Regions from separate parts of the Homo sapiens genome. Here region 2 is linked to region 1. Evidence: fine-mapped expression QTL. A gene starts in region 1. The other region holds a variant in brackets. All regions are shown on one strand. Distances are from middle to middle. Region 1 holds the start of PRODH (proline dehydrogenase 1). Region 2 holds the start of DGCR5 (DiGeorge syndrome critical region gene 5).

Region 1 (9,743 bases):
ATGAGTCTATGTCCATAAGCAATGGAATCTAATAATGTCCTCATATAAGGGGAGTTGGGTCCATACTGTTTTACTCCCTCTTTCATATCTTTTAGCATTTTTATCGAAAAAGACTTGTATCTGGCCTCAACTGTGGGAGGCTCTCCCTCTTGGGCTCCTTCTCCAGGTGGCATCGGTTCTAACGTTACTGGGAATTGCCATGCCTCAGTATCTCCTTCCTTTCTTGATTTATCAATAATTTCATGTAATTCACTACCCTGTCTACTAGGTGGTGCCGTAGGATTAAGTCTCCTAGTGGGCGGCTGAGGGTATGGCGCCCTGCCCTGTGGTGCTGGGGGCATTCCTGGATATCCATACTGACTTTCTGGGGGTGGCCGATACTGAAGTTCAGCCGGAGGCCAGTATTGATAGGCTACTGGCGGTTGGGTCTTATTTTCTTTAACCTGCTTTTGAGGTTGTAATGTTACGGGCACCTGACCTGCTGGAAGAGGACTTGTCCCTCGTGGTTTAGACTCTGATGGCCCCACTAATTCTGGACCTTTTCCTTCTAATTTTAACGTTTCAGGATATATCACCTCCTGTAATTGATTATAGTCAACATTTTGCGTTGACTGAGCCATTACCGGCTCTGCTACATATTCGCAATGTAAACTTTCCGTTTCTTTCTGGGATTTTTTCCTTGTCTTTTCATTACAATCTATTAAACAGCTTCCAGGGGCATCAGAAACTGAAACGCTATCTTCTTCTGTTTGAAATGGTTCTAAAGCTGCTTTAATAATGGCCCAATCATTCCATACTGTAAGTGGAATGATATTACCCTTCCTACCTGCTTGTTTTAGTTCCTTACCAATTCTTTTCCAATCTTTTAGATCTAAAGTTCCTTGTTCTGGAAACCATGGGCAAAATTGTTCTATTATTTGAAATAGCTTGATTAGATTTTTTGTAGATACTTTAACTCCCCCTCTTTTTAAAAGAATTTTAATAAAGCTGAGATAAGAGGCATATTTACTTTTAATTTTACTTTTAGTTTGCCCCATTATCACCCTAGCTTCTTCCGAGCGCACAAGCTTACCGTAAGGCTGACTGTAGACGTACTCGGGATCTCTCGTCGACTTGTCCTCAATGACCACGCTCGAGCGTACCTTCACCCTAGAGAAAAGCCTCCATGTTGGGCACCAGATGTAGGGGTGGGTTGCCCCTACACACCTGTGGGTGTTTCTCGTAAGGTGGGACGAGAGATTTGGAAAAGAAAAAGACACAGAGACAAAGTATAGAGAAAGAAATAAGGGGAACCGGGGAACCAGCGTTCAGCATATGGAGGATCCCGCCAGCCTCTGAGTTCCCTTAGTATTTATTCATCATTTGTGGGTGTTTCTCGAAGAGGGGGATGTGTCAGGGTCACAAGACAATTGTGGGGAGAGGGTCAGCAGACAAACACGTGAACAAAGGTCTTTGCATCATAGACAATGTAAAGGATTAAGTGCTGTGCTTTTAGATATGCATACACATAAACATCTCAATGCTTTACAAAGCAGTATTGCTGCCCGCAGGTCCCACCTCCAGCCCTAAGGCGGTTTTTCCCTATCTCAGTAGATGGAGCATACAATCGGGTTTTATACCGAGACATTCCATTGCCCAGGGACAGGCAGGAGACAGATGCCTTCCTCTTGTCTCAACTGCAAGAGGCATTCCTTCCTCTTTTACTAATTCTCCTCAGCACAGACCCTTTACGGGTGTCGGGCTGGGGGACGGTCAGGTCTTTCCCTTCCCACGAGGCCATATTTCAGACTATCACATGGGGAGAAACCTTGGACAATACCTGGCTTTCCTAGGCAGAGGTCCCTGCGGCCTTCCGCAGTTTTTGTGTCCCTGGGTACTTGAGATTAGGGAGTGGTGATGACTCTTAAGGAGCAGGCTGCCTTCAAGCATCTGCTTAACAAAGCACATCCTGCACCGCCCTTAATCCATTTAACTCTGAGTTGACACAGCACACGTTTCAGAGAGCACGGGGTTGGGGGTAAGGTTATAGATTAACAGAATCTCAAGGCAGAAGAATTTTTCTTAGCACATAACAAAATGGAGTCTCCTATGTCTACTTCTTTCTACACAGACACAGTAACAATCTGATCTCTCTTGCTTTTCCCCACACTGGGTAACACAGCCAGACCCTGTCTCCACAAAAAAATATTTTTTAAAAATTAGCTAGGTGCAGTCCAGCCTGTAGTCCCAGCTACTTGGGAGGTTGAGGCAGGGGGATCACTTGAGCCCAGGTGTCAGGCCTCTGAGCCCAAGCTAAGCCATCATATCCCTTGTGACCTGCACGGATACATCCAGATGGGCTGAAGCAACTGAAGATCCACAGAAGAAGTGAAAATAGCCTTAACTGATGACATTCCACCATTGTGATTTGTTTCTGCCCCACCCTAACTGATCAATGTACTTCATAATCTCCCCCACCCTTAAGAAGGTTCTTGGTAATTCTCCCCACCCTTGAGAAGGTACTTTGTGAGATCCACCCCTGCCCCCAGAACATTGCTCTTAACTCCACTGCCTATCCCAAAACCTGTAAGAACTAATGATAATCCCACCACCCTTTGCTGACTCCTTTTTTGGACTCAGCCTGCCTGCACCCAGGTGAAATAAACAGCCTTGTTGCTCATACAAAGCTGGTTGGTGGTCCCTTCACAGGGACACATGAGACACCAGGAGTTCAAGGCCACAGTGAGCTGTGATCACATGGCTGCACTCCAGCTTGGGCAACAGAGAGAGACCCTGTCTCTTAAAAAAAAAAAAAAAAAAAGCCATCAGCTGGCTCAGGGTAGCCACCTGCCAAGGGTCCCCAGCTGAGCCTAAGACCTGCTTCCTAGGATTTACAGAGCTCCTGTGAAACTCGGTTGTTTCATTGATTGTCACATGGAGCCAGTGACTTTCAGGCCAGCCTTGTTCCCACAGGTGCCCTCACAGGTGGGCTCTCCCGTGGGCCTGGGCACCCAGCGCTAGGCCTGCTCTGCTATGGTCTGGACGTGAGTGGTGATCTCTGTGATCCCTGCACCCCTCGCTTCTCCCCCTGCCCTCTCTGCAGCCCTGCCCCTGGCAGCCCCTGCCCACCTTTGCCTCTGTGCAGGGCCACAGGCTTCCTTGAAGCAAATGCTAGAACTTTGCTTTTTTAAAAAAATATAACAGCTTTATTGAGATATTGAATGGTTTTTTAGTCTATACACAAGGTTGAGCAAACATCACCACTCTCTAGCCCCAGAGTATTTCCGGACCCCAAAGAAACTCCGTGGGCCTTGGCAGCCCCTCCCACTCCTCCCGTCCTCCACCTCCAGGCACCACTGCCAGTGCCATACTCACCAGGCTCCACTATGGGCTTGTCTTCGTGTGACTTCTGTCTCTATCGATTTGTCTATTCTGAACTCTTCATATAAAACGAACCATACAACTTGTGGCCGTTTGTGTCCGGAATCTTTCTTTAAAAAAAAAAATTCACCGGGCGTGGTGGCTCACGCCTGTAATCCCAGCACTCTGGGAGGCGGAGGCGGGCGGATCACAAGGTCAGGAGATCAAGACCATCCTGGCTAACACGGTGAAACCCCGTCTCTACTAAAAACATAAAAAATTAGCCAGGCTTGGCAGGCGCCTGTAGTCCCAGCTACTCTGGAGGCTGAGGTGGGAGAATGGCGTGAACCCGGGAGGCAGAGGTTGCAGTGAGCTGAGATCATGCCACTGCACTCCAGCCTGGGAGACAGAGCAAGACTCCATCTCAAAAAAAAAAAATTCACTTTTATTTTTGAGACAGGGTCTCCCTCCATTGCCCAGGCTGGAGTTCAGTGGCACAATCAGCTCACTGCAGCTTCAACCTCCTGGGCTCAAGCAATCCCCTCACCTCAGCCTCCTGAGTAGCTGGGATTACAGACATGCAACACTATGCCTGGTTAATTTTCTATTTTTTGTAGAGACGAGGTCTTACTATGTTGCCCAGACTGCTCTGGCACTCCTGGGCTCAAAAGATCCTCCTGCCTCGGCCTCCCAAAGTGCTGAGATTACAGGCGTGAGCCACCACACCCGGCTATTTTTATTTTTTAGTTGACACATAATAATTGTACATATTTGTGGGGTACGTAGTGATGTTTCTGTACGTGTATAGTGATCAGATAAGGGTAATTAGCATACCTATCATCTCAAACATTTATTATTTCTTTGCATTACGAACACTCAATATTCTCCTTCAAGCTATCTGAAAATACATAATTTTTGTTTTGAGACAGGGTCTCACTCTGTTGCTGTCTTCACGGAGAGCAGGAGCAGAGGCTTTGAGAAGCCAGTGGGCCTTGGCCTCAGCCCTGCCGGCAGAGGGTCCCCACCATGCAGCTGAAGTGCCAGGGTGCTTGTGAAGTCTAAGCCCTTGTCTGGCATTTGTCAGGAATATAGGGTGAGGCCTCTGGGACCGAGCGGGGCGGGGCGGGGCGGGGCGGGGCGGGGCGGGACCAACAGCGCACACTTAAGCGGCCCGGGCGGGTACCGCCGTCCCGCCATGGCTCTGAGGCGCGCCCTGCCCGCGCTGCGCCCCTGCATTCCCCGCTTCGTCCCGCTGTCCACGGCGCCGGCCTCCCGCGAGCAGCCCGCAGCGGGCCCAGCGGCCGTGCCAGGAGGTGGGTCGGCCACGGCAGTGCGGCCGCCGGTGCCCGCCGTGGACTTCGGCAACGCGCAGGAGGCGTACCGCAGCCGGCGAACCTGGGAGCTGGCGCGGAGCCTGCTGGTGCTGCGCTTGTGCGCCTGGCCCGCGCTGCTGGCGCGCCACGAGCAGGTGCGCGGGGTGCAGGCGGGGGCGCGGGGGCTTCTGCCGGTCCCGGGAGCCTTTACGGAGCTTCCTGGCCTGAAACGGGTGCCTCCCAAGCATCTCCTGGAGCAAGGGAAGCCAGGAAGGGAGGCGTTTCCTGCAGTCCCTCTCGGACCTCGCAAATTTTCCTATTTGTCGATGTCTACCAACTAAAAACAATGGTCGTTTTCATATTTACGATATATACCACTTGTGGGAATACAGAGTTATCACTTGGAATTTAAAATGGAGTATTCTTCATGTTGAGACAAGAGAATCCTGGTGTAGGGCTCATAGCCTGGAACCCCGGAATTCAAACCCCGGGACCCAGCAGCTTCCCAGACACGGCCACTCTGAGAACACTGTTGGGGAAAAATGGGAAGCCCCTCAAACGCCCAGCTTTGAACTCACCCATGGTAGCTTTAAAAAGTGTCAGGGCTTTTGGTGGCGGTGGTGGGGGGCAACAAGCAGAACACTGTTTTAGCCGCATCAGCCTAGGGGTACTAGAGATGACGGTTATCTCCAGGTGACCCTGGGAAGAGTTTGCAAGGTTCCGCTTTTTGGCGCCAGGGTATCTGGTGGTGTTGATTTCTCAGGTGAGACTGTACAGAGGTCGGGGGCTGCACCCCTGGCCTCAACAGGAGGCGGGGGAAGGCGGGGGACGGTGTCAGATGAGAAGCACCGAGCCACAGTTGAGCTTAGGTGAGGCCTCGGCGGGTGCGAGGTGAGGGCAGGGATCCACGAACTCAGAGTCAGATGCTGTTGGCCCGAATCCCATGGGGAGCGCCAAGGTCAGCCTAGGACCCGTGGTGGCGGGAGTGCGGAGGATGGTGGAGGAAGAAGGAGCTGAACTGGACAGATGGAGGGCTCTGGGAGGGCATTGCTGTGTGTGCACACAAGGATGTCTTAAGGTCAAGTTTTGGTCATAGAGAGCCCCGGCCAAGGAGACAGGAGGGCGAGAAGGGACATCCCAGGTAGAGGAACTGGCAAGGTGAGGGACGGCGATGTGGAGGCTTTGGGGAGTGCCCACATCTAAGGGGCATCCCAAAAGAGGAGCCAGTGCTGGTGGTGCTGCAATAGGAGGAGGAGGCAGCAGGGCAGAAATGCCAGGGGAGGGAGTGGCCAGCCACAGGTCCCTGCCCAGGGCAAGGACGGGCATGCTAGGTGGCAGCTGGGGCCAGTCGTGCAGAAGCCATGCCCACCTTGTGGCCGGGATGGAGTGGGGACTAGGAAGGCACCAGGTCAGGTTTCTGTAGGCACAGCCCTAAGCATGGCTGGGATGGGGAGGGGGCTAGGAAGGCACCAGGTCAGGTTTCTGTAGGCACAGCCCTAAGGTTTCTTGTCTAGATTCAAGACAAGTTGTTGCACAGAGAAGCCAGCAGAGCTGGGTGTGGGGTTTGGTGCCCAGTCTGCTGCGGGGAATGCCAGGTGCTGTTCCGTGACTGTGGGAGGAAACTGTTGGCTCCGCTGTCCCTTGGGTGCCTTCTTGAGGCAAGTGCCAGGGCTCAGGGATGGTGCTGTGAGTACCTGGAAGAGGCAGGGCATCCAGAGGTGACCTCTCCCAGGCTCCCCTAGGGTCCCACCTGTGCCCTGGGAAGTCCCTCAGTGGGGTCTGTACTGTTGTCTTGCTAGTGGTCCCATGGGTGTCGGCAGCCTCAGCACTGGAAGAAGGCAGAGGCCAGGTCCTGGGCTTGTGAGCTGCTCACTAGAACCTGGTCCTGTGAGCGGGCCAGAGGGGAGTTCCTTCCCTCACCCTCTGGGCTGTGGGGAGATTCCTTCTGCTGAGCCAGCACAGGTCTGTGAGGCACCCGGGCAGTGAGGCCACATCTGCCACAGGCGTGTCAGGTTGTAGTAGCTGATCTTTGAGCTGCTGCCTTGGATGGGGACAGCAGTGGGGCCCGCCCTTGCCTGAAAGCCAGACTTATTGAGGAGGGTTTAGGAAAGTCCCAGGATTTCCATGACAACAGCACTGAGGTTGGGTGTGCGCCCTCACAGAAGGGACAGGACCCGTGGTGACAGTGGTTCCCTGAGTGGGGGGAGGGGAGAGAACCGGCTCTACCAGTGTTACTCTGCACACATTTGGTTGAGTCTTTCACAGGGGGTACAAGTGTATGTGTTACTGGTGCAGGTTTCTAAATCCTCGAAGGATCTCCTCACCTGAAGAAGATGTGGGGCTGCCCTGGTCTCAGGTAGTGCCATGCGGGGACATCAGTGACACCAGGATGGTGTTAAAGTGGTTGCTTTGCTGTGGAGTCAGCTTTAAAATTACAAGCCCTAGGCTCATGCCTAGGCATGGTGGCTCATGCCTGTAATTCTAGCACTTAAGGAGGTCAAGGCAGGAGGATCATTTAAGGCTAGGAGTTCAAGACCAGCCTGAGCAACATCGTGAAACCCTGTCTCTACAAAATATTTTTAAAAGTTAGCTGGGGCCAGGTGCGGTGGCTCATGCCTGTCATCCCAGCACTTTGGGTGGCCGAGGCGGGTGGATCACCTGAAGTCAGGAGTTTGAGACCAGCCTGGCCAACATGGAGAAACCCCATCTCTACTAAAAATATAAAAATTAGCTGGGCATGGTGGTGTGCGCCTGTAATCTCTGCTACTTGGGAGGCTGAGGCGGGAGAATCGCTTGAACCTGGGAGGTGGAGGTTGCAGTGAGCCGAGATTGTGCTACTGCACTCCAGCCTGGGCAACAAGAGCAAAACTCTGCCTCAAAAAAAAGAAAAAATAAAAGTTAGCTGAGTGTGGTGGTGCATGCCTGTAGTCCCAACTACTCTGGAGGCCGAGATAGGAGTGTCGCTTGAGCCCAGGAGTGAGACCCTGCCTCTAAAAATAAATAAATAAAAAACTTGCCAGCCCTGCCTGTGTGCTTCTGCAGCCCTGTGCAGGGAGCTTCCACCCTCAGCCCGGGCCCAGTCCCCCAGCCCCCCATCTTTGTGAATAAGCATCCCTGGAGTCAGTGCAGCCTGGGCTCCCGCCCCTTCATTTAGTGCTGGCCGTGCGGAGGCGAGCAGTTAGGTAGAGGGAGACTGCGTGGCCCCGTGCGGCAGTCGACAGTTGCCCACCCTCCCTCCTGTTGTTTTCTGATGGTTCTCTCAGAGCGGATGTGGATAAGCCCAGTGATGGTGTTCAGGTCCCCAGTTCTGCCCCGCCTGCCACTTGGGTGATCTTTGATATGTTTCAGACCCATCCTGTTCTCCCAACTATCCCTGGGTGCTGCCAGCAGGAATGAGGCCTGGCTCAGGCTCAGTGGGAGACGGAGAACATGTCAGCCTGTTCATTTTCCAGTTTCTAATCCTCTTGATAAAAGAACAAAATGCCTTAAAGTCAGATTCTGCTTGGAGGCTGCAGGAAGGCAGGGGTGAGTGCCTGGGAAACCCTGGTCCTTGGGGCTGCCCCATGGCGTGCCCAGGGGTGATGGTCAGGAGGCGTCTCCATGGGGCACCAATGTTCAGGGTAAGGCTGTGGGGCTATGTCTGCCTGTGGGCAGGCGTGTGGGTGCTCAGGGCTGGCTTGGGTGTAAGTGTTTGACTCGCTAATGGTTTTGCTTAGACTAGAAGTTGTTCCTGAAACTACGGTCTCAAGAGATGCTCCCCACATAAAAGGAGTTCTAGTATCCATTGGGTTTGAGAAACCCCAGGCTCTTCCTGTGTTGGGGCTGAGTCGGCAGGGGCAGCAGACACAACGCGGAGGTGTGCTTCTGAGCATCACACTCGGCCCTCCTCTCCAAGTAGCCTCTCGTTGTCCCTGTCCTTTCTGCCCTGGCTGTCCCCCGTGCTGGAGCTCCCACAGTTGTCCATGCCATCTCCTCGCCTTGGCAAGCCCCACTCCTGGATCTGGGTTAGTAAACACCCCTGCCCTACCCTGCAGGCACTGCCCCATCCCCCTGTCCTGAGTCATAGGCAGAGTCCCTCCTTCCCCTTTGGGGTTCCTTTACCACCAGGATGTGAGATCCTGGTCGGTTTCCTTTGGTTGTTTCCAGTCTATAAAAGGTGCTTGGTGCATGGCAGCTTGGGACATCTGAATGAGCGACGTGGTGAAATATGATTGGAGGAGACAGACAGTTCCCGGGCAGCATCTGTCAGAGTGGCTGGTCAGCCCCAGATGACCCTGCAGAGCGCATGGGTCCTGGGGTGGGAGTCATCTCACAGGCCCCTGTGGACTGTCATCTAGCTCATTGTCCTTGTTGCCAGGGCATGCCTCCCTCCAGCTGGGCGCAGACTCAGCCTGAGTTTCACACGTTTGTTATTTAGCATCCATTCGGGGGCTGGCCTCATGCCAGTCACACTGTTTAAGGGACTTGGGATAAGAGGGAACAAAACATTGAAAAATCTGGGCACTCAAGTACTAGAAAGTCAAGTTAGATCCTCCTCTTCCGCAGCAGAACTACCAAGGTGTGGATACAGAGGATGGTCTCAAAATGCCGGCTGTCATCCCCAGGGAGGCTGGCCATTCTCCTTTTTATCCACCAAGCAGTGGTCAGGCACCCACTGTGTGCTGCTGGAGTGACTCATGGGTGGGGCCCTGAAGGGGCAGAGTCCAGGTGGGAACAGTGTCCTCAGGCCAAGCAGGCAGCACCTCCTGTGGTCTCTCTGCCCTGGATGGGAACTGGAGTGATGGACAGGGTGGAGAAGCAAGCGGCTTTAGCTGGTCTTCACCATGAAACTGACCCTGAAAGCCCAGTCGCCAAGAGACCATATCGAGGCCCCATGGCTGGGGTGAAGTGTGGTCGGGGATGAGCAGCGGTGCCTTGCTGGGAAAGGAGAGTTCAGGCAGCCCAGGACAGCGGCTTCCCTTTGCCTTTCAGCTGCTGTATGTTTCCAGGAAACTTCTAGGACAGAGGCTATTCAACAAGCTCATGAAGATGACCTTCTATGGGCATTTTGTAGCCGGGGAGGACCAGGAGTCCATCCAGCCCCTGCTTCGG
Region 2 (12,022 bases), 37 kb before region 1:
TCGGGGGCAGTGCTGAAGAGTGGGCTCCTCAGATGCCTGGGGCACTAAGGCCCACTGGAGCCACCAGCTAGGTCGGCTGCAGTGATTGCCCCATGCTCTGTACACTGCCACATACCAGGCACCGTTCTAAGTGCTTCATCGGACTCAACTCACCCACTTGCCCCAGCAGGTAACCAGGCAGATGTCACTGATCGGTTTTACAGATGAGGAAACTGATGTGCAGAGTGACACTCCTGAGACCGTGAAGCTTGTAAATGGGGCAGCTGGGTTTTGACCCTCAGTCTGGCTTTAGAGCACAGGCCCTGACCATGACACGGCCCTGCCCCTCTGTCAAGGGGAGGCCTGACCATTGGGACCAGCTGTGCACCCAGGTGGCACCTTCCCTGGGTAGCTTGGAGGATCACAGCCCCTCTGTTCAGGTGGTGGGACTGGGCTAGCCCATGCTGGTCTCCTGCTCCCAACACTAAACCTGGCTGTCTTCCAGAAAGAGGACAGAGCTCAGACACTGAGAGCTTGGGCAGGCAAATGGGAAATGACGGGAGGCTGCACGGTGCACCTCTGTGCCGGGGGTCTGACAGCCAGGCTGTGGGGAGGGGACCTTTCCATCCTGCTCTTGAGGTGCACACAGCACCAGAGGGTGAGCCCAGGGGCCGAGTCACCACAGCACCCATGTGCAGGGAGAGTCTCGATGGTGAGGGCCGCTGACCAGGACGGTCCTCCTCAAAAGAGTTTTACAAAATAACCCTTTGCATAAAATAAGCATTGTATTTTTCTCTGTTGAGGTGTAATTGACATAAATTGCACCCATTTAAAACGTATAATTTGGTACCTTTTGACATGTTTGTACCTGTGAACCTCTGACCACAGTTGAGGTGGTTACCCCCAAAAGGTTCCCCGTGCCCTTCCCTGCCCCGGGCAACCATTCTTCTATATTGTCACTGTAGATTAGTTTACATCTTGTGGAATTTAATCTAAACAGAAACATACAGTATGTACTCCTTTTTGTCTGACTTCTTTCACTCAGCATAATCATTCTGATATTTATCCATGTCTAAAATCCTTTGATATTCATCCATGATACACATCCACGTTGCATGTGTCAAAAGTCAATTCCACTGTATTGATATCACATAGCCTGTTTATCCATTCACATGTGGACAGACTTCTGGGTCATTTCCAGTTTTTGCTTATACGAATAAAGCTGCTATAAACCTTTGTATACAAATCTTTGTCTGGACAAATGCTTCCACTTATCTTGGGTAAATACCTAGGAGGGGAATGACTGTCATATGGTAGGTTCATATTTAACTCTTTAAGAAACTACCAAACTATTTTCCAAAGTGGTTGCATCATGTTATATTCCCACCAACAGCGTATGAGAGTTCCAGTTCCTCCACATCCTTCCTAACACTTGATATTTTCTGTTTTAAATTACAGCCATCCTAGTGGGTGTGAAATATTATCTCACTGAGGTTCTATTTTGCATTTCCATAATGACTAAAGATGTGGAGCATCTATTCAGGTGCCTGTTTGCTGACAAAATGTCTTCTTTGGTGAACCATCTGTTCAATTATTTTGCCCAATTTGTGAATAGGTTTTTTTCTTATTATTGAGTTTTGAGAGTTATTATTTGTATATTTAGGATATAAGTCTTTTACCAGATATATGATTTGCAAATAGTTTCTCCTGATTTGTTGTTTGTGTATTCTCTTGAAAGTGTCCTTCAGAGGCCAGGCACGGTGGCTCACGCTTGTAATCCCAGCACTCTGGGAGGTTGAGGTGGGTGGATCACTTGGGGTCAAGAGTTCAAGACCAGCCTGGCCAACATGGTGAAACCCCATCTCTACTAAAAATACAAAAAAATTAGCTTGGTGGTGGGCACCTGTAATCCCAGCTACTCAGGAGGCTGAGGCAGGAGAATCGCTTGAACCCAGGAGGCAGGGAGGTTGCAGGGGCCAGCTGTGGCCACAGGCTGGGGACAGAGGCCAGGTCTGAGGCTGGTCCTCAGTGAGGAGTAAAGGGGATGGACCGGGAGACAGGGTGCAGGTTTGACACTGATTTTGCTTTTGGGGATGGGTCGAGGGAAGAGGCTGAGACTCTGGGCTTGGACATTGGGTACGGAGGATGTGACACTAGCAGACAGGCTGGATCTGGAGGCCTAAGGTGTGCAGTGTGGGGAGCTGTGTGTGCAGGAGAGATGCAGAGCACTAGGGAGCCTGAACCCCTGCTCCAGTGCACAGGCCTGGCACACGGCAGGGAGGAGGCAGTCACCATTCCCTGACCCGCCCGGGCCTGGGAGGCAGGGCAGAGCTGGTGACGGGCCAGCGTGGGGCCTTGGAATGACATCTGGCATGTGGCGGTGGAGGGGGGACATGTAACTGGGGACTGTGGACTCCCAGCTGGAATCCACCTCCACCTTCCACATCCACGCACTGCCTTTTGGTCTTTACTGAGCACCTGCTGTGTGCAGGGGCTGCTCTAGCCCCTGGGACCACCAAGGGCCAGCCCTCCGCAACCCCAGCCCTGCATTCAGCCCCCACCCACTTCCTCCAGAGCCCCACACCCCACATACTGAGGACTCTAGGCGTTTTCCCACTCTTGAAGGCACTGAGCTGGGAACACCACCTCTGGCCACCAGCTGTGGACTGCAGAGAGGCCTACGGTGACCAGGAAGGGTGGAGCTGCCCAAGGTCATACAGCAAGCCGGCACTGCACAAGCTGATCCCATGGCTGCCCAGCCTTGGGGAATGGGGGACTTCTGGCATGTCCCCGAGCTGGCCTCATCTGGGCCCTGGTAGAAGGCAAATAAAGGCAACATCTCAACAAGGTTGTGATAGCTGGGACAAATTGAGGACACAGTGCCGGGGATCCAGGCAAGCAAGGGACAATCCAGGAAGGCTCCCAGGAGGAGGTGAGGGGCCTGAAGCCCACCCTGGCCTGAGCCCCTCCTCGGTACTCTAGCCTGCCTAGCCCTACCCGCTTCCTCGACGGGCCCCTCACCCAGCCTCAGCCTTGGCCTGACATTTCCCGTGACATTTGCTACAAAGAAATTGAGTCATAAATCCAAAGGTTAAATTTGCACATCGCCTCAAACTGCTGGGGGAAGCAGTGGTCCCTCCACCCACTGGGCGCCCCGTGGGTGCGGGGTTTGTGTGGCAGGGTCTACCCATCCTGGGGCACTTGCTGGAGGCCCACAGGTCTCCTCTGGTCCTCCGAGGCACTTCAACCACTGTTTCCCAAAACAGGTTCCTGGGCACACCAGGCCCTGAGGTACATCGCATAGGGGTGCCTCTCAGAGAAGGTGCTGCCCACCCCTCTCCAAAACAGAGCCCAAGATGCCCTGCGGGAAAGGAGCACCATCAGCACCATTTATTCCAGCAGGTCCCACATTTGACCACAAAGCCCTTATGTGATACCCCCAACATTCCAAAGAATTTCAACTCCATGGACCGTGACCCGTGACAGCCAGCTAAGAATGCCAGGGTGCCGACTGGAGAGCCAAGAGGCACCCGGGGGCCCAGGGCAGGCTGCTCTGAGTGAGGCTGGGTCAGCACCTGACACTTCACTCCCAGATCAGCCCGGCTCCATGTGCCAGGGCCCTGAATGGGGCTTACCGCCTGCCAGGCCTGTGTAGAACTACATGGGGACCCTGGCCTGTGCCCACTCAGCCTCTCCTAAGGCCACTCTCGAGGTGTGCCAACAGCCCTGCCTTTCTTCTCCACCTCCTGGTCTGGCTGCCGTGGGTTGCCTCCATTGGACAGGACACAGCTGCAGAACAGTGTCAGCATTACCCCATGCCCCGCTGCCCTGCTGCCCCGCAGAAGAGGCCCCGCAGGCCATAGCGGGCAAGACCAGAGGCTGTGTGAAAGAGGGAGAGGAGAGGCGGCCCCAAGGCACCCACTGCACAAATGGATGCCCAGACTCTACTCACTCACCATCACCCACCCGGCCAGCCCACGGTTGTCAAAGGCCTCAGCTGGCTAGGAGGGGCGGGATCTGGCCCTGCTGCCGAGTCCCCTGAAATCAGCTCAAGCATCAGGGGAGAGGCACGTGACCAGCCCCTAGACCTGGTGGGTGCCAGCTGAGGACATGGTGGGGTGGGTGTGCAGAGCTGCATCTCCCGGTGCCCAGCTCCACGGCTGCAGGCAGTGCAGGAGGCCGGTGCAGGTTTGGATAAATAAATGATGGTGCATTCTCAGGAAGGGATTCCACACACACCAGAAAACCCACGATGCACAAGAATAGTTCCCGATGTGCAAAGTGTTTAAAATACAGCGATAAAAGAAGAAACGGCAGCACAGAACAACTGGTGTGGGGAACCCAGCTGGGCCCCAGGGACAGTGCAGGGAGATTTGCAGGGTGGGGTAGCATGCCCGCCACTCCGATCGGGCTTCCCCGGGGCCACTCTGTTACCTCCTATCCTTTAAAGCATTTAATCCTAGAGATGCACGATGCCAAGGATTGCACCCCTTGATTTGCCTGGCTCAGAAGAGAATCTGACAGGCTAGGAACGAACAAGCAAATGAATGAACAAATGAGAAAGTGAACGGACAGTTGGGGCAAATGCAGCATCTGGGATCTGGCTTCGAGGAGGGTGCCTGTGACCTTGGCCTGGGTGCAGCCAGGCTGCAGAGCAGGGACACTGAGGGGTGCAGAGAGGGCCCCGAGAGGGCATCTGCACAGCTGCAGAGGCAGCAGGCAGCCAGGCCGGCTCCTGCAGACCCCAAAGCCCAGGCCCTGGGTGGCTGCAGAGGGTCAGGCAGGCCAGCCTGGGGATCAGAGGTCAGGCTTGCCAGAATGGGGGCGGGACGGCATGAACCTCATTGATCAGACAGTAGCCAAGCGTCGGGAGCCCTCACTAACCCTGTGCCAGGGCCGGGCAGGGCGCCTGGCTCACACATGCATTTGTTCATTTCCAGGTCATCCTGAAACTCCCCGTATGCTTCCTGTTCTTGACCCCTTTCCCAGGTGCACAGACCAAGGCTCCCGGTGAGAGGTTCCGGGCCACAGGCCCAGGACAGCAGGAGGGCTCCTCTGCCTCCCACCCGTCCTGTCCTCACCAGCTGGACCCTCCTGGTGTTGCACCGGCTGCACAGGGCCGTCCGTGCCACAAAGCATGAATTCAAGGCTGGGGCAGGGACGAGGAGAGGGCAGTGCTACAAGGCTGCACTGTCCTTGGGCAGAGGGAGGCGGAGGGCACGGTCCCACATGCCCTGGCCCTCACAGCCTGCCTGTCACTCACAGCAACAGCAAACAAACCCCAGCCCCTCCACAGGCTGTGGGCCAGTCCCCAGCCTCCCAGGACAACAGGACCTTCCCCCACCTTCCAGGGCCCCAGCCCCTGTGGGGGTGTCCTCCATAGACCCTCCACAAGCCCTCTGGCTTTCAGAGACCTGCTGGGCCAGGCCCTCCCTCAACCTCTCCCCTGCTTCTCACTCCATGCAAACCTACGTTTCTGCCAGTCCCAGTGGAAGGACCCTGGCACAGGGAAACTGAGGCTCAGGGGTTCCACAGACCCCCAGGTGAGGAACAGGGGGAGGGCAGGGAGGGAGTGAAGGTACTATGGGAGGGTCTCCCAAGCTGGGCAGCATCCCTGCCCTGTCCCCTCTCCACTCACCTGTGGCCTGAGTTGCCTGACTAGGGGCTTTTATTGTCCCTTCTGCAAATGGATGGGGTGAGGGGCCAGCTGGCCATGCAAAGGTCCCAGGAGGACTCTGCTGAGTTGGGGTGTGGGGAGGTGTTCTGGGCATTCTGAGGCAGAAGCACCAGAGTCGGAACTCCACAGGGAAAGC[C/T]GGGCCAATTCCGCCCAGCCTCAGCCTGGAAGTGCCCCGATAATCCCTGACCACTGGCCCATGGTGCAGGTGAGGAAGACTGAGGCAGAGAGGTGACCTGTCACACCCAAGGTCACACTGCCAGCAGGTGGCTGAGCCAGGACCCAAATCCAGGTCACGGTTCTGCCACGGCAGGCCCTGCACGTGCCCCTCTGCCAGGTGGGGTCTAGGTGCTGATGGCCACCCATTCCCACCCCCGGCATGGGAGCTCACTTCCTCCTCACCTCAGTAGAGAAGAACAGGGAACAGTACCCCCTTTATAGATGGGAAGACTGAGGCTTAGAAAAAGAGACTGGCCAGCCCCACTGCTTCAGCTGCCCCTCTGCTAGTATGTTTCACCCTCACACAACCTACAAGGATAACCTGCTGGTCCCCACTCTATAGATGAGCCTCTGGTGGTGGCCAGGGGAGCAGGAGGTGTGGCCTGCCAATTGAAGCCCCAGCCCAGGGCCCTTGCCACAGTGCTAGTGGGCCACCCTTGCCCATCATGCAGCATGGCATCCATCTGCTCAGCACCCTACACAACACCGGAGGTAGGGGAGCCCACCACGGAACCCCTCACCAAGAAGGTCCTCACCATGGAGAAACTGAGGTACTGGAGGCGGGGCCTCTGCAGTCACGCTGGGTCACGTGCTCCAGTCAGCCAAGCTGCAGCGGCCACCAAGGGTGCCCAGGGTCTGGCCTGTTGGTCACAGTGTTGACCTCATGGCCTGAAATGGGTCTTCCCTGACCAGACAGGTTCCAGCCCACCATCATCTATCACTGCCTCAGCCCTGGTGGGTGCGGAGTGGCTGGGAGACCCTGCCCCTCACACCCTGGGCTGGGGGCATTCAATGAGCCCCCAACACACATTCCAGGGCCTCTGCTCCAGATTAGGCCACAGCCTGTCTAGGCACACAAGGGGCACCCACACCCTGGAGGCAAAGAGACATATGCCTATGTGCTCGCAGGCACACATGATCACGCGCACAGACACACGTGCAGATGCATACCAAGTTACACACACGCACACACGCCCGAGGCGGGGACCCCCAGGACACGGAGGCAGGCAGGCAGAGGTGGGGCCCAGGATGTCTTGCCCCTGTCTGTGGGCCTGGCCTCCCCACTCAACAGACGAGCATGTGGGTGCGGGAGTGGGTATTGTGAAAGGGGCCCCAGCATGTGCCACCCGTGGAGACCACAGCAGGCATGTCGCGTACATGCATGTGTGGCCGTGGGCGTGCAAGCGGGGGCGAGGACACAGATATGCACCCTCAGAGTCCGTGTGTGCACCCAGTGTTCGTGCATGTGTACACTGGGGTGGCGCTGGCACGCATGTGCACCAGAGGTGTGCAAGTGTGCAGTCCGTGTAGACATGTGCACGTGCAAGGAAACGTGTGTGCAGCCTGCGACACCATGGACATCAGCAGGGCAGCCTGGGTGGGCACCTGGGGAGCACCCTCCAGGCAGGGCATGCCCAACTCACATGGAGCCCACCCTCCCTTGCCCCCCACTGCGGGACCTCACACCCAGTGGGGCGGGGGAGTCTCACGAAGGCTGCCAGGGAGGGGATGCTGATTGCCCCACCACCCCTGATTCCCCCAGCCAAGCCTCTCAATGTCCCTCGGGCTGCGGATGTCTGGGCATTGCTGCCTCCTCTCACCGCCCGCCCTGGAGGCAGCGTTGGGACAACCTTGTCCCCCACGCCCTCTACTGCCGCCAACGCCCCCATTGATCCCCCTGAGGCCTGACCTCAGAAAAACGGGAGGTTCTGAGCCCAGTCCGCGAGGCGGGGGCGGAGGCGGCCCGATACCTCCACCTACTCTCGGTACCCGCGTTTCTGCAAAAAAACCCGCTCATTAACCCCTTCGTGGCCGCGGCGCCGAGGCCGGACCCCGTCCTTCCAGCCCGCGGCCCCCACCCCGGACCTGGCCCAGCCTCGGGGACCCCCGGGCCGCCACCCCCGGCCCCGCCATCGCCGTCAACTTACCCGGGAAGCGGCAACTTTTCCTGCTGCCTCCGGCTCCGCCCTCCCGGGGCCGGGGCGCCCTTGGCCCCAGCCTGGCGCGGCACTGCGGTGGCCCTCCCGGCCGCCCGGCTACGCTTCCCCAGCCTTGGAAGCCCTGGACGGGCCCTGCGGCTCCGAGGAGGGGCGAACCACCCCGCTCTGCGCCCCGCCGCCTGCTGGGCTCTGGCGCCGCGTGGACACTCACCTCCAGTGGACGCCCTCTTCATCATAGGGGTCAGGCGGAGCGGGTCGGGGACCGAAAGTCGCTTCGGGGCGGGCGCCAGTCTCCGGCCCAGCCCCGGGCCGGCATCCAGGCGCCGCCGCTCCGGCCCAGCCCCGGCCCGGCAGCGGGTCTAGGCTCCGCGCGCTCCGCTCCGCCCGGCTCGGGCGGGGCTCGGGCCGCGGGCGCGCAGGGCGCGGGAGGCGGCGGCGGGCGGGGCCCTCACCTGGGCGCAGGCGCCTGCCTGGGCGGGGGCTGGGGGGCGCGGGCCTGGGCGGGGGCTGGGGGGCGCGGGCCCAAGTTGGGGCGTGAGCGGCGCGGCTGGCCGGGGAGCGTAGGCCGGGCAGCAGGAGGTGCTCAGCCCACCCGGCCCTAGACAAAGCCGCGCATTCCTGAAGAGGCGGCGGCCCTGCAGGCGGCGGAGGGGATGGCGGCTGGGGCCATTGAGGCCTGGGGATGGCCTCTGCGCGACCCACTCGCTTCCTGGCCTCACGAAACCCATGAACCCCCCGCCCCCCCCCGCCCCCTGCACAGAAGCCCCTTGCTGGAGCACGATCGCCCCCATTTTTCAGTAAGAAACAGGCTCAAGGCTTAAGAGCGTTCTGGGGGCCCTCTTGGGCCTTTGTGGCCCTCTCTGCACCACCCCAGGGAGGGGACCCAGGCCTGATGTTACCCATAACCCTGCAGGGGTCCCCCACCTCTTCCTTCCTGCGGAATGTGGCCTCCAAACCCAGAAGACGCTCTCCGAGGCCGCCTGCTTAGTATCATCCCCCACTCTACTAAGCCAGCCCCCAGCGGGGCCGGGGGGGCGTCATGGAGCCAGAGAACCCAGTGACACCCCTACACACACCACACAGGGTGGGGGTGTTCCTTCTCCGTCTTCTGCTCGGGGGGCATCCGATGATGATGAGCTCCTAAGCCCATCCCGGGGTCTTCAGACAACTGCCAGGCTGTCCCTGCACCTGGAGGAGTGCTGGGAGTCAGCTCAGCTGGGCTGGGTCCTCCCCAGGCCCACCCTGCATGACAGGACCAGGGTCTTGCAGGCCAACCTGGTGTCAGTCTGTAGGACCCTGACTCAAGGACGGAGTGGGCCAGCCTGAGGTCTTGATGGCTCCCCTCAGAGCCCAGGTCCACTGATATGAAGCAGAGAGACCTGGTGACTGGGCAGCCCTGTGCTCTCTGCCTGCCCCTGGCCATGGAGGTGGCCCTGAGGGAGATGAGCAGGGCACAGGGCTGGTGACCTGCCTGCCTTGTCCAGAGGAAGTGAGGACCTCCCAGAGCCCTGGTGCTCCCATCTGATCCCAGTGGCAGGCAGCTTCCCAGGGTGGAGCCATGCTGGCCGGGCCCTCTGCCTGGTGTGGAGGCTGCACTGCCCACATGCCTCTGGCTGCCGCTCTGTGGCCCTCATCACCTTGGCCTGCTTTATCCCTATCACCCTTGTCCCAGCCTAGGCTTATGAGGGCATTGTGGAGTGCATGCCATTCCCAGCCACACAGAAGGTGAGGTGGGGCCCAGACACCCCCAGCCACTCTGTCCCCTGGCCTCCTGAAGGGGTGGGCTGTGCACACACTGCCACCTCCCCAGAGGGTGCTGGCTGCCGAGTGCCACCAGCTCAGCCCCTGAGGTGGCTCAACAGGTCCTCCCAGAGCCACACCAAGATGTCATCACCCATTGCACAGATGGGGAACCTCAGGCGAAGCTGACAGAGCCAGTGGGAGGCTGAGGCCTGACCCCTAAACAAGCATTCTTCCTCCAGGGTCCCTGCACGCAGCAGCCCCTAGACTAGGAACTGAGCTCTCACCACAGGGATGTATCAGACCCTAGATGAGTCATGAGGCACTGACCATCAGTCTGAGGACAGCGCTGGGGTGGACCAGGCTCCAGTCTCGGGCTGCTCTGTGCTTGCAGAGAGGGCTTGAGAGGACACTTGCGTGCTTACTATGCAGGCGTCTCTTCAATTACCAGTGACCCAGAGCGGCCCACTACAATTGAAGATTGTGACCCCACACCCTATCTCATAGGTTTAAAGCCCCTCCCACCCCTCCTGCAGCAGCCAAAGTGACCATTCTGGGGCATGGGATGGGCATGGGGGGAAATGGGGAGCCAGGGCTAACCTGGAGGCTTCTGGCACCACAGCCCTCTCCAGCCATCAAGTCCGGCTGTTCCCAGCTGCTCTGGGCTGGGACCTGGGCCTCCACCTCCCCACCTGTCTGTGCAGTGGGAGCAGGCCCAAGGCCCACAGAGGGAGCGCTGGGGGACCGGCTGGTTTCCTGTGTCCGCCACCTCGGTCAGCACCTTGGCCAGCGCCCTCCCCACTGGAAGCTGAGCCCACTCCTGGGTGCTAGCTGGAACGATTAGGTGTGGGCCAGCGCTGATAGGGAGTTATGGGGGTGCAGAGGCAGAGTTGAGCAGGGCTAGGCAGCCGGTCGGTCTGCTACCAGCAAGGCACAGCCCGCTTCTCAGGCTGTGCATGTGGGAGGGTTTGGTAAGCCACATTTTTCAGGGTGTAGCCAGGTCGGGGGGCAGCATGGGGAGTGGTGTACTCTCTGGGCAGGCGACCGCGGAGCCATCACCCCCCCAGGGCCCAACGGGCAAGGGAGGGAGGGCAGCTGACGGCTGGTGAGGGGCTAGCAGGGAGGGCTTGACAAGGGCTGGAGCCCCTGGTCAAGGGGCACAGCCAGTTCTATCGGGTCACCTCATGGGAGGAGCCAGGGACCCTGTGGGCAGAGCCTGGCCGTCTGCTGCCCGGAGTCTACACCAGTCAGTTCCTAGGAAGCCCCAGCAGGGGTGCTGGGAGGACAGGCCATCTGTGCCCAGCTGATGCAAGCTCCCAGGCTTTCTGGACACGTGGCCCTGGGGATCAGGAGTGAGCTGGAGACTGCAGACAGCTGTGACCTCAGGGCTGGGCAGACCTGTCACACCCTGCCTGGACTGGGTCAGCAGGGCCACACGGGCATCTGCCCGAATCGTTCCCCACCTCACACCCACCATGTAGGGCACATCCTTTGCCAGCTTCCCCAGCCCACCACCCCCCTCCAGTGAGGCCAGGGGCTGCCTCACCTCCCACCCCCACCCCCAACCTGGGGCTCGGCCTCCACGACCAGCATGCCGGTCATGAGGGCCCTGCCCAGCTGTGTGACCTCGGCCCAGCCCCTTGGCCTCGCTGAGCTTGCACAGCATGTGGACGAGGCAGACGCTAATGCCTCAGGGCCTGGTCAGCTGGTCACTGTCCCTCCTTTGTTCACCCCTCCTGTCCCCTGAGAGGATCATGCAGGGTTTTCACTCAAAACTCCATGCCTGCCCATAGAAGCCAGCTTGAGATGAGGGGACCTTTCGCAGTGGCCCGTCTTGGGCTGACAGGGACACGGTTCAGCCTCCTTGGAAGGTCCCTTCTTCCCAGGGCTTCGGGAGGCTCATCTCCCGCCTGGAGAGATAGGCGTGCCATGGCTTTCCTTGGCATGCCTGTGCGGTTCTCACGGACATCCAGGCCCTCGGTGTCTCCTGGGGAGGGATGGGCAGCAAGGAAATTGGGTCTTTGCTCCACACATTCTGGGCCACTCCAGGCCAATGCAAGGAGAGACCAGGAAGGAAGCTAGAAGGTCATGCGGCAAGCACATGCCTGCTGCCCAAGCGTGTCAATGTGACCAACCCTTCCCTGCACTCTGAGTGGGCGGCTAGGGATGTGGTCCCGGTGCCAGGGAGCTGGGGGGCGTCAGCCTGCCATCTGCTCTCACCACAGAGGGTGGCTGCATGCCCAAGGCCCGAGAGGACTCTGTGCCAGGCCTGCTGAGTGAGTCATCCCATTCAGTCCTGCAGTGTAGACACTACTACCACCACCCATTTTCCAGACCAGAGAAGGAGGTCTGGGGAGCTTAGGTGGACCCACGTCTTGGCAGCCTCTCTCAGCCCTCTCTTTGCCCACAGCCTCTGCCTCCTCCAGAAGCCTCTCACCATCCCCCATCCCCAGGGCTGCAGAGGGTGTCC

What was found.
Region 2: its variant is fine-mapped to the expression of PRODH in sun-exposed skin (GTEx, PIP above 0.99). The same link has a PIP of 0.9 or more in tibial nerve and unexposed skin.

What each region holds. Positions count from the first base shown.
Region 1 is chr22:18,931,079-18,940,821 of GRCh38, reverse strand. It overlaps PRODH (proline dehydrogenase 1), which reads left to right and starts at 4,529. Exons shown (of 14, transcript NM_016335.6): 1 at 4,529-4,807; 2 at 9,624-9,743. The coding sequence starts at 4,535. It overlaps LOC122455341 (a long non-coding RNA gene), which reads right to left and starts at 4,399. Exons shown (of 4, transcript NR_173080.2): 1 at 4,174-4,399; 2 at 3,355-3,470; 3 at 1,073-1,149. RefSeq lists enhancers at 1,463-1,970, 1,832-2,126, 1,085-2,149, a silencer at 1,832-2,126, a promoter at 1,085-4,299 and a cis regulatory region at 4,313-4,547.
Region 2 is chr22:18,966,660-18,978,681 of GRCh38, reverse strand. DGCR5 (DiGeorge syndrome critical region gene 5) reads right to left here and starts at 8,214. Exons shown (of 6, transcript NR_110533.2): 1 at 8,024-8,214. RefSeq lists an enhancer at 8,302-9,133. The variant C/T (reference allele first, on the strand shown) is at 5,793.